2 separate regions of the Homo sapiens genome follow, and region 2 is linked to region 1. Evidence: fine-mapped expression QTL. A gene starts in region 1. The other region holds a variant in brackets. All regions are shown on one strand. Distances are from middle to middle.

Evidence for each region. PIP is the estimated chance that this variant, and not a neighbour inherited with it, causes the effect.
Region 2: its variant is fine-mapped to the expression of GPR52 in monocytes (BLUEPRINT, PIP 0.95).

The regions. Positions count from the first base shown.
Region 1 is chr1:174,444,698-174,450,082 of GRCh38, forward strand. It overlaps GPR52 (G protein-coupled receptor 52), which reads left to right and starts at 3,267. Exons shown (of 1, transcript NM_005684.5): 1 at 3,267-4,848. The coding sequence starts at 3,415. The coding sequence ends at 4,500. All of the region lies in intron 13 of RABGAP1L (RAB GTPase activating protein 1 like), which reads left to right.
Region 2 is chr1:175,309,496-175,314,880 of GRCh38, forward strand. All of the region lies in intron 1 of LOC105371623 (a long non-coding RNA gene), which reads left to right. Among named protein-coding and RNA genes, the nearest start is that of KIAA0040, 120 kb to the left of the region's middle. The variant T/TCA (reference allele first, on the strand shown) is at 3,126.

The sequences.
Region 1 (5,385 bases):
ATTTTTTCTAGGTTTTCCAGTTTGTTGGCATATATATTTTTCACAAGTCTCCAATGATCCTTTGTATTTCTGTGGAGTCAATTGTAATGTCTTTTCATCTTTGATTTTATTTATTTGAGTCTTCTTTCTTTTTTGCTTAGTCTAGCTAAGGGTTTGTTGATTTTGTTTATCTTTTCAAAAAATCAAGTTTTTGTTTTGTTGATCTTTTTATGTTTTTTAGGACTTTTAAGAATAATAATAACCTATTTCGGTCCCATTTTCACAAGTCTGTGATTATAGGCAAGTTATACTTACTATCTCTACTATCTGCTTTCTTCATTTGGAAAATGATAATGATGATACCTACTTCATAGAGTTTTAAGATTTTTATAAAGGAAAAGTATATAATGCACACAGCACAATGCTTGGCATATAGAAAATACTCAACAAATGTTAGTTATCTTCCATTTTTATCTTAATTTTCCTGGTGTATTTTAATTCTGACATAATTTGTAAATTAGTTCTAAGTCACTTTTAAGAAAAATGCTGATCCCCTAAGAAGTTTAAAATAGTGAATGTTTGTCTGTAGTAAGTCAAAATAATCAGAAATGTTTTAATGTCCATCAAATATTTGATTAAATTAATTTGCATTGTTCTAATTTAGGTATGTGTAGCTCAAGCACTTAGAACAAATTTCTTTGACCATTTGACCTTTTTTTTCATATTAGGATAAAAAGTGGATAAGCAATGTTTTTATTTATTCTAATTTCTATGCTCTTTTGAGATCATATTTGACCTTCAGTATTGCTCTGAATAGATTTTGGTACAGTAGTGTTAGTTCTATTGCTTTGTTTGTACAGTTAAATACATCAAACTCAGCAATTTTTTGTGGGGGTGATGGGGATTGGAGAGATTAGTAAATGATTTCTAAGTTCTGTTAATTAAAATGTAACTATATATTTTAGAGAGAAGTTAGTAGTCATATCACTTTAGTTCATGAAGACTTGGCAAATTTTTAATAATTAATAAGTTTTTTCTGCCAATGAGCATTAGATTACTGCTGACTTTTTAGTGTCATAGTACCTTGTGGTAGTTTCTTTACAGGGTTTACAGGAGTATGGCAGTTTATTTTTTCTGTCTTGTCCATACGAAATAATCTTTACAAATGCTATAAGGAGAATACCTTGAGAAGTTCATAAATGCCTTAATATATTATAAAGATCGGTCAGTTCCATTGTCTTCTTTTGTCAGTCTTGATCGGAGCTTGCCGAGTAAGTCTATAAGCCTGCATGTGCCTGGCAACTGTTACCTAGTGACAGTTTCAGCTGCAGTAGCCATTGGCTGTGCTGTTGATTGGGGCAGGAGGGCCGAGTCACCTTTCTGATGGTGAGTTTTTCTGCATCAGCCCAGGATGAGGAGGAGGAGTAGGGCTTGGGCTCAGGTGGAGTCATTGATGCTGAGAGATTGTGAAGAATATACTGACAGCATCCTTGTAGCTGCATCACAGTAAATCGGACTTCTGAATCAAGCAGCCCAGCCTAGCAGCTGATAAGAGTGAATGTAGGTGAGAAGCATTACCTTATTCCTGTAACAAGAGAACTGTTTTGTGATAAGTGAAACTAGGAATGTAGAAGAAGAAATATCCTATGGCTATTATAAAAGAAGAAGGACTTGCCTGAATGACTTGGTGGTGCACCAGAAAATAACTTTCAGAAGAATGCTTTCTGTTAAGCTGCTGCATTGTTCCTGGAGGAAATGTTATTTCTAATGCATGTTATTTCTTCAAAAGATAGGATAACAAAGAATGACAGGAGACTCTCTGAAATGACTTCACTTTTAAAAAATACTTTGGCAAATGTTAACCTGATATCAAAATGACCTTGGAAGCATTTTGGATGGATTCTATCCTGGCAGCCTTGCAATGTTTCAAACTCTAGGATTTAAAGTTCATCTTGATACTTTAGAGGTATTTTAAAATAAGACTATCTTGCAACCTACCTAATGGCCCCTGTGTTAATTGAGCACTTGCTCAAAATAGAGTACAGAAAAATAGAAGAGGCATTTTTTAACATATGGCTGCTACATAACTGCAAATGTAATAAACAAGGTAATTTTCCACTTTCAGAAGATATAGTTGAAGTAATGATTTAATGTGTTAAATCATCTACTGAAAATAGAAAAGGTATAGCAACATAGAACATGAAGCCTATTAGAAATACCTAAGTAATAAATAATGGCAGCATTTCTGGTCAAATAAGCTCGGAGTATATTGGAAAGTTTTATTGTCTAACTTTATATTTACATATATATGTGAGATATGGGTATACAGTTGCAAAGGTGAGAAATAACTGTGAGCTACATATTTTATTATCATGCTCCATTATAAGGAAGGTGGTATATGAAATAACAAATGTTATTTTAAGTTATAGATGCCAAATTAATAGCAAAAATAATTCATTTTGAAAAGGAAGAGGTATAAGTTACGTTGCTGTTAGTACCACCAGTAACTGTAATGGATTAAAACTGCTTTCATCTAAATGCTTTAAAAATGCATGCAGAATTAAAACTTCAGAAGTTTATTACATTTTGCCAGGTGTTAATTCATTAATTCATTGTATATTCTCTTTTCTATTGGAAAATACTTTTTTCTCATGAGAGTTATAGGGCAATCTGGAGTCTGTTTGTTACCTCTATTCTGCCCATGTAGAGATGAATCTTTTCAAATTAACTTTGATAGAGTTGTTTTTCTTAGATTTTAGAAAAATGAGAAATAGGTTATAAATTTGACCCCCCAACATCAATCCCTGAACTAAGCCCAAAGACACTCTTTGCCACAATGAACTTTTTCTTAGCTTTTCAACCAAATTTGAGATCTTAAATTATTTAAAATCTAAAATATGAATGCATTTTTCATCATAGATAAAGCAGGAAGCCTGAGACAGTTTCAGAGTTTTTCTTTTCTCATTCTTTCCAGTTGCTCCCTAAGAAACTGCCTCTCTTAGGAGAACAGCCCACAGAAGCTTTTCTTCCTTTGGCAATTCATTTTTTTTCTTTTTACAGATTTAATTTTTCATAGTGCAAGATAATAAGAAGTCTATTTTCTCTAGAAGTGCCTTATGTCTGCAAAAAGTTCTTTGAGGGCACCAGAGGAAACTAATTAGTGACCTCTTTTCACCTCCTTTCTAGCTTATCCCCTTCTCTCCACCCCTTACCGCCCCCCCCCCACCCCCCCGCCCGAAAGCTGAGGTGTGTCACTGCTGAACTGAGGCTGGTGAAGAGACTTGAGCACTCTCTGGGACTCTCAGCTGTGACAGAAGCACTGACACTGTCTACTGAAGCAGGTTCTGAAACACTCATGTGCGGTGTTTAACAGATGCTGGGCAGGGCATCTGCTTGCTGTAGCCAAGTCTGCAGGTGTCTTTAAATTTCCAAGCCATGAATGAATCCAGGTGGACTGAATGGAGGATCCTGAACATGAGCAGTGGCATTGTGAATGTGTCCGAGCGTCACTCCTGCCCACTTGGATTTGGCCACTACAGTGTGGTGGATGTCTGCATCTTCGAGACAGTGGTTATTGTGTTGCTGACATTTCTGATCATTGCTGGGAATCTAACAGTTATCTTTGTCTTTCATTGTGCTCCACTGTTACATCATTATACTACCAGCTATTTCATTCAGACGATGGCATATGCTGATCTTTTCGTTGGAGTTAGCTGCTTGGTTCCTACTCTGTCACTTCTCCACTACTCCACAGGTGTCCACGAGTCATTGACTTGCCAGGTTTTTGGATATATCATCTCAGTTCTAAAAAGTGTTTCTATGGCATGTCTTGCTTGCATCAGTGTGGATCGTTATCTTGCAATAACCAAGCCTCTTTCCTACAATCAACTGGTCACCCCTTGTCGCTTGAGAATTTGCATTATTTTGATCTGGATCTACTCCTGCCTAATTTTCTTGCCTTCCTTTTTTGGCTGGGGGAAACCTGGTTACCATGGTGACATTTTTGAATGGTGTGCCACGTCTTGGCTCACCAGTGCCTATTTTACTGGCTTTATTGTTTGTTTACTTTATGCTCCTGCTGCCTTTGTTGTCTGCTTCACTTACTTCCACATTTTCAAAATTTGCCGTCAGCACACCAAAGAGATAAATGACCGAAGAGCCCGATTCCCTAGTCATGAGGTAGATTCTTCCAGAGAGACTGGACACAGCCCTGACCGTCGCTACGCCATGGTTTTGTTTAGGATAACCAGTGTATTTTATATGCTGTGGCTCCCCTATATAATTTACTTTCTTCTAGAAAGCTCCCGGGTCTTGGACAATCCAACTCTGTCCTTCTTAACAACCTGGCTTGCAATAAGTAATAGTTTTTGTAACTGTGTAATATACAGCCTCTCCAACAGCGTTTTCCGGCTAGGCCTCCGAAGACTGTCTGAGACAATGTGCACATCCTGTATGTGTGTGAAGGATCAGGAAGCACAAGAACCCAAACCTAGGAAACGGGCTAATTCTTGCTCCATTTGAAGAGAGCTACATAGTAAATCAAATGTAATCTGACAGTGGTTTTGGATCATATTCTAGATTCATCTGGAAATTTGCCATCAGAGAAATATTTACTTGAATAGTTGACTGTAAAATGAAGTATGAGACTAAAGGTTTCTCTCTTTTTTTTTCTTTTTCATGGAAGAAACTAAAGGGAAGGATGTATAGAGGGTTAGCTCATGAAATAATTATAGCATGTGAGTATTAGTGTGCAGTAATAGGAAAAATTAAGCACTGAGATGAAAAAGAATATCTCAAATCTTCTGCAGGACATGAGCAAGCCCCTTGGCTCAGCATTTCTGTCTTTCTGTCTGACTGTACCCTGCCTCTGTCTTTCTCATTTTGTCTATGTTTCTCTCACTCTTTGTGGAAGTTATTACTTACATAAACTGCCCTTTGTAGAAAAGTGCTACATATTATATATGTGGTAAAGTATAATCTTTTGCATCAAAGTGTACCTTTAATCACACTAATCTATAATCCATAAGTGATCTCTTCATGGAGGATGCACAGTAAGCATTGCATTTTATTATTTGCCAAACAACCCCTTTGCTTGTGTTTTTATAATGTTCTCTGCAGCACAGTTTTTCTGCTATAAACAAATAGAAACAGTATTTTTGTTTCTTCTGGGTAAAATGACATTTGCTTTTCCCTGGTTTCCTAACAGTCTCCTGTTTTTTTTCTCTCTTTTTCTTGATCTGCATCCATTGGTACCTTACTTTAGAAGTGTCTTAGCTATTGAAAGAATCTACTGTATAGAGCATCCATGATGTTAAATAATGTATTTCTTCCAGCAAAGCAATCTGGTAGCTTATTAAATATTTTTAATGGCTTTTGGAAACATTTTTATCTGGTTCCTTTTAAATT
Region 2 (5,385 bases), 860 kb after region 1:
TACTCCGCCAAGCTGGAGGTCTTTCCTCCTCAGGGTGTTTTTGTCTTGGAAGAGAAATAAATGGTTCTGCAAATCTGGTAGTGGGTTGCAGCCAGGCTCTAATAGGAGAGACCTGTTTGGGGATGCTTCACTGGCTCTCGATCTGAAAGAAGACCCTGTGATAAACAGGATCATGACGGAGAGCAGCATACCTCCTTTAGCACCAAGAGGTGAACTTCGAATTGTCCTTCTTTGCTGTGAGCTCTGTGGTAAGGTCCACCCTTGCAGGAAGGGACTTTATCAGCGTTTCTTGAGAGACTGAACTGATCTGTCTGTCTGGCCAAGAGAAGTAGATGTGAGGACCATTGATGCCAGTCACATTCACATGTTGACCCGATCCCAGGTGACCTTCACAACTAACATGCCATTACAGAGACCTACTGTGGTGACTACATTTGTTTAAAACAAAACTGGACCATGTAGCCCAACAGTCATGGCCAGGACAATTGGAAAGAAAAATCAGCATTGAAACATCTCTGAAAAAGCTAGAGGTGAACATCTGCCCCCACCCTCCCCTGCCCCTAGTCGCTTCCTTTCTGTGTACTGGATTTCTTATCTGGGAGGATGAATTGGGTAAAGGGGTTTAGCTGAGGGTGTTTTCCTCTGCCACAAGCTGAGACTACAGCTGGTTAGCCCTTTGCTTTCCCTAACATCATGGAACACTCCCTTAGGCATGCGACTTAGATATTCACATTCTCCTGGGGAGCTTGGGTGGTGATACTGCCCTTCCTTGCTCTGTTGACTGCAATCCTGGACCTGAATATCATTCTTAGGTAGAATTGTGGCACAAAATCTTCTCTTCCTTCTATCTTTAGTGCCTAATTACCCTGTATTTCTTTCTTCTTAAGAAACCTTTAGGACATATGAGATTGTGAGGTATTTGGGGATCTTAAACAATCGATACCATTTATTATTGTCCATCAGGTGAAGCAACAGAGCCAAAGGTCTAATTTACAAGTGACTCTTGGTTTGAAATCTAAATGATTCCTAGGGAGCCATGACAAACTGAACCATTGTAAGACAAACTCTCATTTTCTGTAAGTGTCATTTTATCAATTCCACTTTCTACCTTGGAATCTAATCTCATACCACAAAAATACCCAGAGTAATTCCGACAAAATGAAACTAAAATAAAACACAGATATAAGCTTTTCAAACATTTATAAACTATATAAAGACAAATTCAATAGAAAAGCTATAACAATGTTCCATTTGGGCGATCCTTTTGTCTTTTGGGCTGAAATGAACCAGCCTGAAGCTTTTTGAAATTTGCTTCCATGAAGTCTGGATTGAAGTTATCTCTTCTTTCTGTGATAAATCTCCCTGTAACAGTGGCTCTCAACTGAGGGTGATTTTTTTTCCCCCAGAGGACATTTGGCAATGTCTGGAGACATTTTTGGTTGTTACAACATGGTGGGAGGCGGGGGTCCTACTGGAATTTAGTGGGTAAAAGCACAGGGCAGGTCCCTAAAACAAAGAATTATCTGACCAAAATGTCAATAGTACTGCTGTATTGAAACACTGCTTTGTAGCGTGGACATTTCAAACCGAGTTAACATTAGGTCATTTCGTTGAAAGATAAAACCAGATTTATGTGAATATGTCTCAATTTCTTTAAATGGTACTGGTTGGGGGTTGGGGAGGATAGGAGGGCAGGCCGTTCCACATTGACTTCTTTAATCATCTCTTGCTTTTCCAAGTCAATAAATCAACTGGGTTACCTTTAATTGCAACCCAGGTTGTTATTGTTGTTGCCAATCGTTTCAGTGTAGCTTTGGTTGTAAATACAAGCTTTGGTTATTACTTTGTGGTTTTTATTTGTGGGGGGAGAAATCATAAACAGTGAGTGGGCTCACAAATCAAGCCAGGTATTACCGGCATGCAGGCATAATATATGCGTTCCTCAGTTTTCATTGTTTATCTTGGATCTTTAAATTTCCTGTACAGCTAGCATACTGAATTTTCATAATTGCTACTGCATTTCTTATAATTTACACATATTTGCCAGAAACCTCTGAAGAGCTTGTTGTTTGTCATGAAGAGCACAGCTGTGAATGAATGCCTAGCAGTGATCTCTGATGATAGCAATTTTTATTTAAAGCATTAAAGGGCATCAACATCTAAAAGTTGATCCATACCTTCCACTGGCCCCTGGCCCCTGCCCCCGGGGAAAATTCTACAGTAATCAGTTTCTTTTTAGAAGGTTCTGTCAACTTTTTGGATTCAAGAGCCTCCTTAATTGCCACTTTTCTTAGTGTTAGAAGTGTTTGAAATGTGTCTGAGTTTTAAAAAAATATTGTCAGTGTTGAAATGACAACGCTCATCTAATTAACTGAGTTTTTTCACTGTGTATCTCTTTCCATTTTCTCATGAACACATAAACATAAGTTTGGAAATTTTACTTTATTCTATTTTAAAAACTTTGAAGCAAGGAGCCTTACATATGTGTGAAATATCTGAATAAGAGAGTAGGGAGTTTGGTAAAAACTGGTGGAAAAGGAAAGAGTCAAAAAGAGAATAAATGTCTGGCCGTCGGGCCATGGATTGCTGAATCTCTTTCTAGAGAATGACTTCCCCACCAGCAGGAACGTCTCTGGGAAAGGAACCACATCTGGTTTGTTTACTGCCTTGCAACTGTGTGATGGTTTATTTTATGTGTCAACTTGACTGCACCACAGGGTGCCCCGATTAAACATTATTTCTGGGTGTGTCTGCAAAGGTGTTTTTGGATGAGATTGGCATTTGAATTGGAGCACTGAGTAAAGTAGATTGCTCTGCCTAATGTGAGTGGGCATCGTCCAATCCATTGAGGACCTGAATAGAACAAAAAGGCTGAGGATAGAGGAATTTGCCTTTTGTTTTCTTTCTGCCCACCTATTAAGCTGAAATGTTGTCCTTCTTTAATGATTTGAGTGGGATTTACAACAGTGGCTTTTCTAATTCTCAGGCCTTTGGAATTGGACTGAATTGTACGACCAGGTGTCTTGAGTCTGTGGCTTGCAGACAGCAGACTGTGGGACTTCTTAGTCTCCATAATCACATAAGTCATTTCCTCATAAGTCTCTCTCTCTCTCTCTCTCTCTCTC[T/TCA]CACACACACACACACACACACACACACACACACACACACACACACGCAAACATAATGTAAATCCCCTATTGGTTCTGTTTCTCTGGAGAATCCTGACTGATACATACTGGTATTAAAGTTTAAATAAAAGAATTTTTTTTAACTGTGAAAAAGAGAGAGACAGAGAGAGACCAAATCTCTTCTGGGAGAAGCAGAGGGTGTGCAGGCCTTTCATCTTTTTGTATATCCAGAATCAGTATTGGATCTGGTATATAGTAGGTAACTATTGAATGTGGATGGTGAGATGAGTGAAGAGGAACAAGAGACTCGTTTATGTGTAGCTTTACAAGTCCAACGCATACTCTTTTTATAATTATTTGAAAGACTGGGCAATGGGGAATATTGTACATGTCACATGAGTGGAAAGATACAGGCCCAGAGGGCCCTAATTTGTGGTGATGTCTTATTGCTGACTGGCAAAGGGGTCACTGCTAAAGCACACATCCCCAGGGACACTGGGGGTATTACGGGCAAGAAGATGCTACTGGGTAATTGCACTGATTACTAATGTTGCTAACATTTCTCTTGCTTAATAATCCACTTTTAATATTACCCCTGGCAGTTCTTCGTTCCCATAACACAACAATAATTAAATTTGTGTTCAGTTGGTTGTAAATGCACCCAGAGGTCTTAAGCAATGGGTGAATTATACCCATTTAAGTTAGAACATAATGCTAGCATTCAGCAACCTCAGGAATAAATACTAATTACTAAAGTTCCTTTAAGTTTCACTGTATCACATTAGTTTCCATTTTCATTTTCAAGACAACGTACAGGACAAATGACAGGTTTTTATCTCAATATTACAGCAGTCACTCCTCCAGTCCCATAATCCTGAGCTATAGGTTTCCAGAATGGCTTATTTAAAACAGGACCAGGAAATGTGGCTGTTTTTAAAGGGCCACCTTGGTCTGACATTCCAGAATTTTTTTTTTTTTTAGGAAATGAGGAGAAAAAGAGGAAATGCGGCACAGGGCAAGGGCTAGGAAAGGTGCTTTGCCTGCTCTGTTTGCGAGGGTGCCTTCTATGGTAGATGGCCATGTGGCTGGAGTTTTGTCCCTGTTTTACACATGGCCCCAGGGGTGTGAAGAAGCCTGCTGGTGTCAAGCCTTTTTAAAAATTTATTTCCAGGGTTGGGATTCTGTTCCTTCTTTAAAGCACTCATTATTTCTCCCTTTTAACATGGAAGATGGAGAAAGGTCTCTCCTTTGTGGTCTTGGGTCTTCACAATGCCCAGTCTGTTCCTGGCTCTGTTATTGAACTTCAAGCAAACATGAGTACTAAACCACACCTGGCCCCGTTCCAGCAGGCTCTGCCGTTTCATGCCCCCGACCCTGGTTCATGAGGCTCCCTCCCACCTCTTTTTTTTCCCTTGGATAATTTCTGTTGTCATACTACCTCCCCCAGACAGGCTCCTAATATCCCCCTGCCCACTCCAGCATGGGAGAGCATGTCTGGGTTTGCGGTGCTTACCCTACACCGTTACTCAGTTATCTCTGCACTTCCTGACTGCCTGTGCTCCTGGAACTGGACTGGAAGAAGCTCCCATCACGACTCTCTTTTTGGGGCTGTTCCCTGACTGGGGTCTTACTTAATGTAACCCAGTGGTGAGAGTTGATCTTATATTATGCACTGGGTCCATTTTTAAGGGACAGAAAGGGAAAAGGTTTTTCCAAGTGACCAAAGCTGAGAGGCAGTGGCTAATGGTGCATTAGCTGGAGCTGCTCCCAGGCAGAGCAACAGAACCTGGCAGTGGAGGAGCTGACGGAGTGGAGGGCAGGCTGGCTCAGCACACCGGGCCTGTCAAATGTTCTCTGGCAGTACCCACAGATGGCACTAGAGCCTTGGGGATCAGACCACCCCTGGGCACTTCAGGGTTGAGGGAGCCAGGAGACGAGACTGGAAGGAGGTAGGCAGTGAGTCACCGTCTCTGTGGCTGATCAAGGACTCAAAACTGTACAAAAGGCCTGTCTGGTAATGCTAGGGCAGCAGAGACCACCACCCGTTGGTGACCTTTTCTGATGGTAAAAGCAAAGGGTGAGATGAAATTGGTGTTTTTACCTGAAAAGGCTGTTAAAGGTTAAAATGACAAAATAAAATTCAGAGGGTTTGGAGGATTTGGTGTTTACGATTCCTCAAAGTGGGTGGAAGGTAGGGAAGAAAGAGAAAGGAAGAGAGAGAGAAAGATGCAAAGAGAGAGAGAAAGATGCAAAGAGAGGA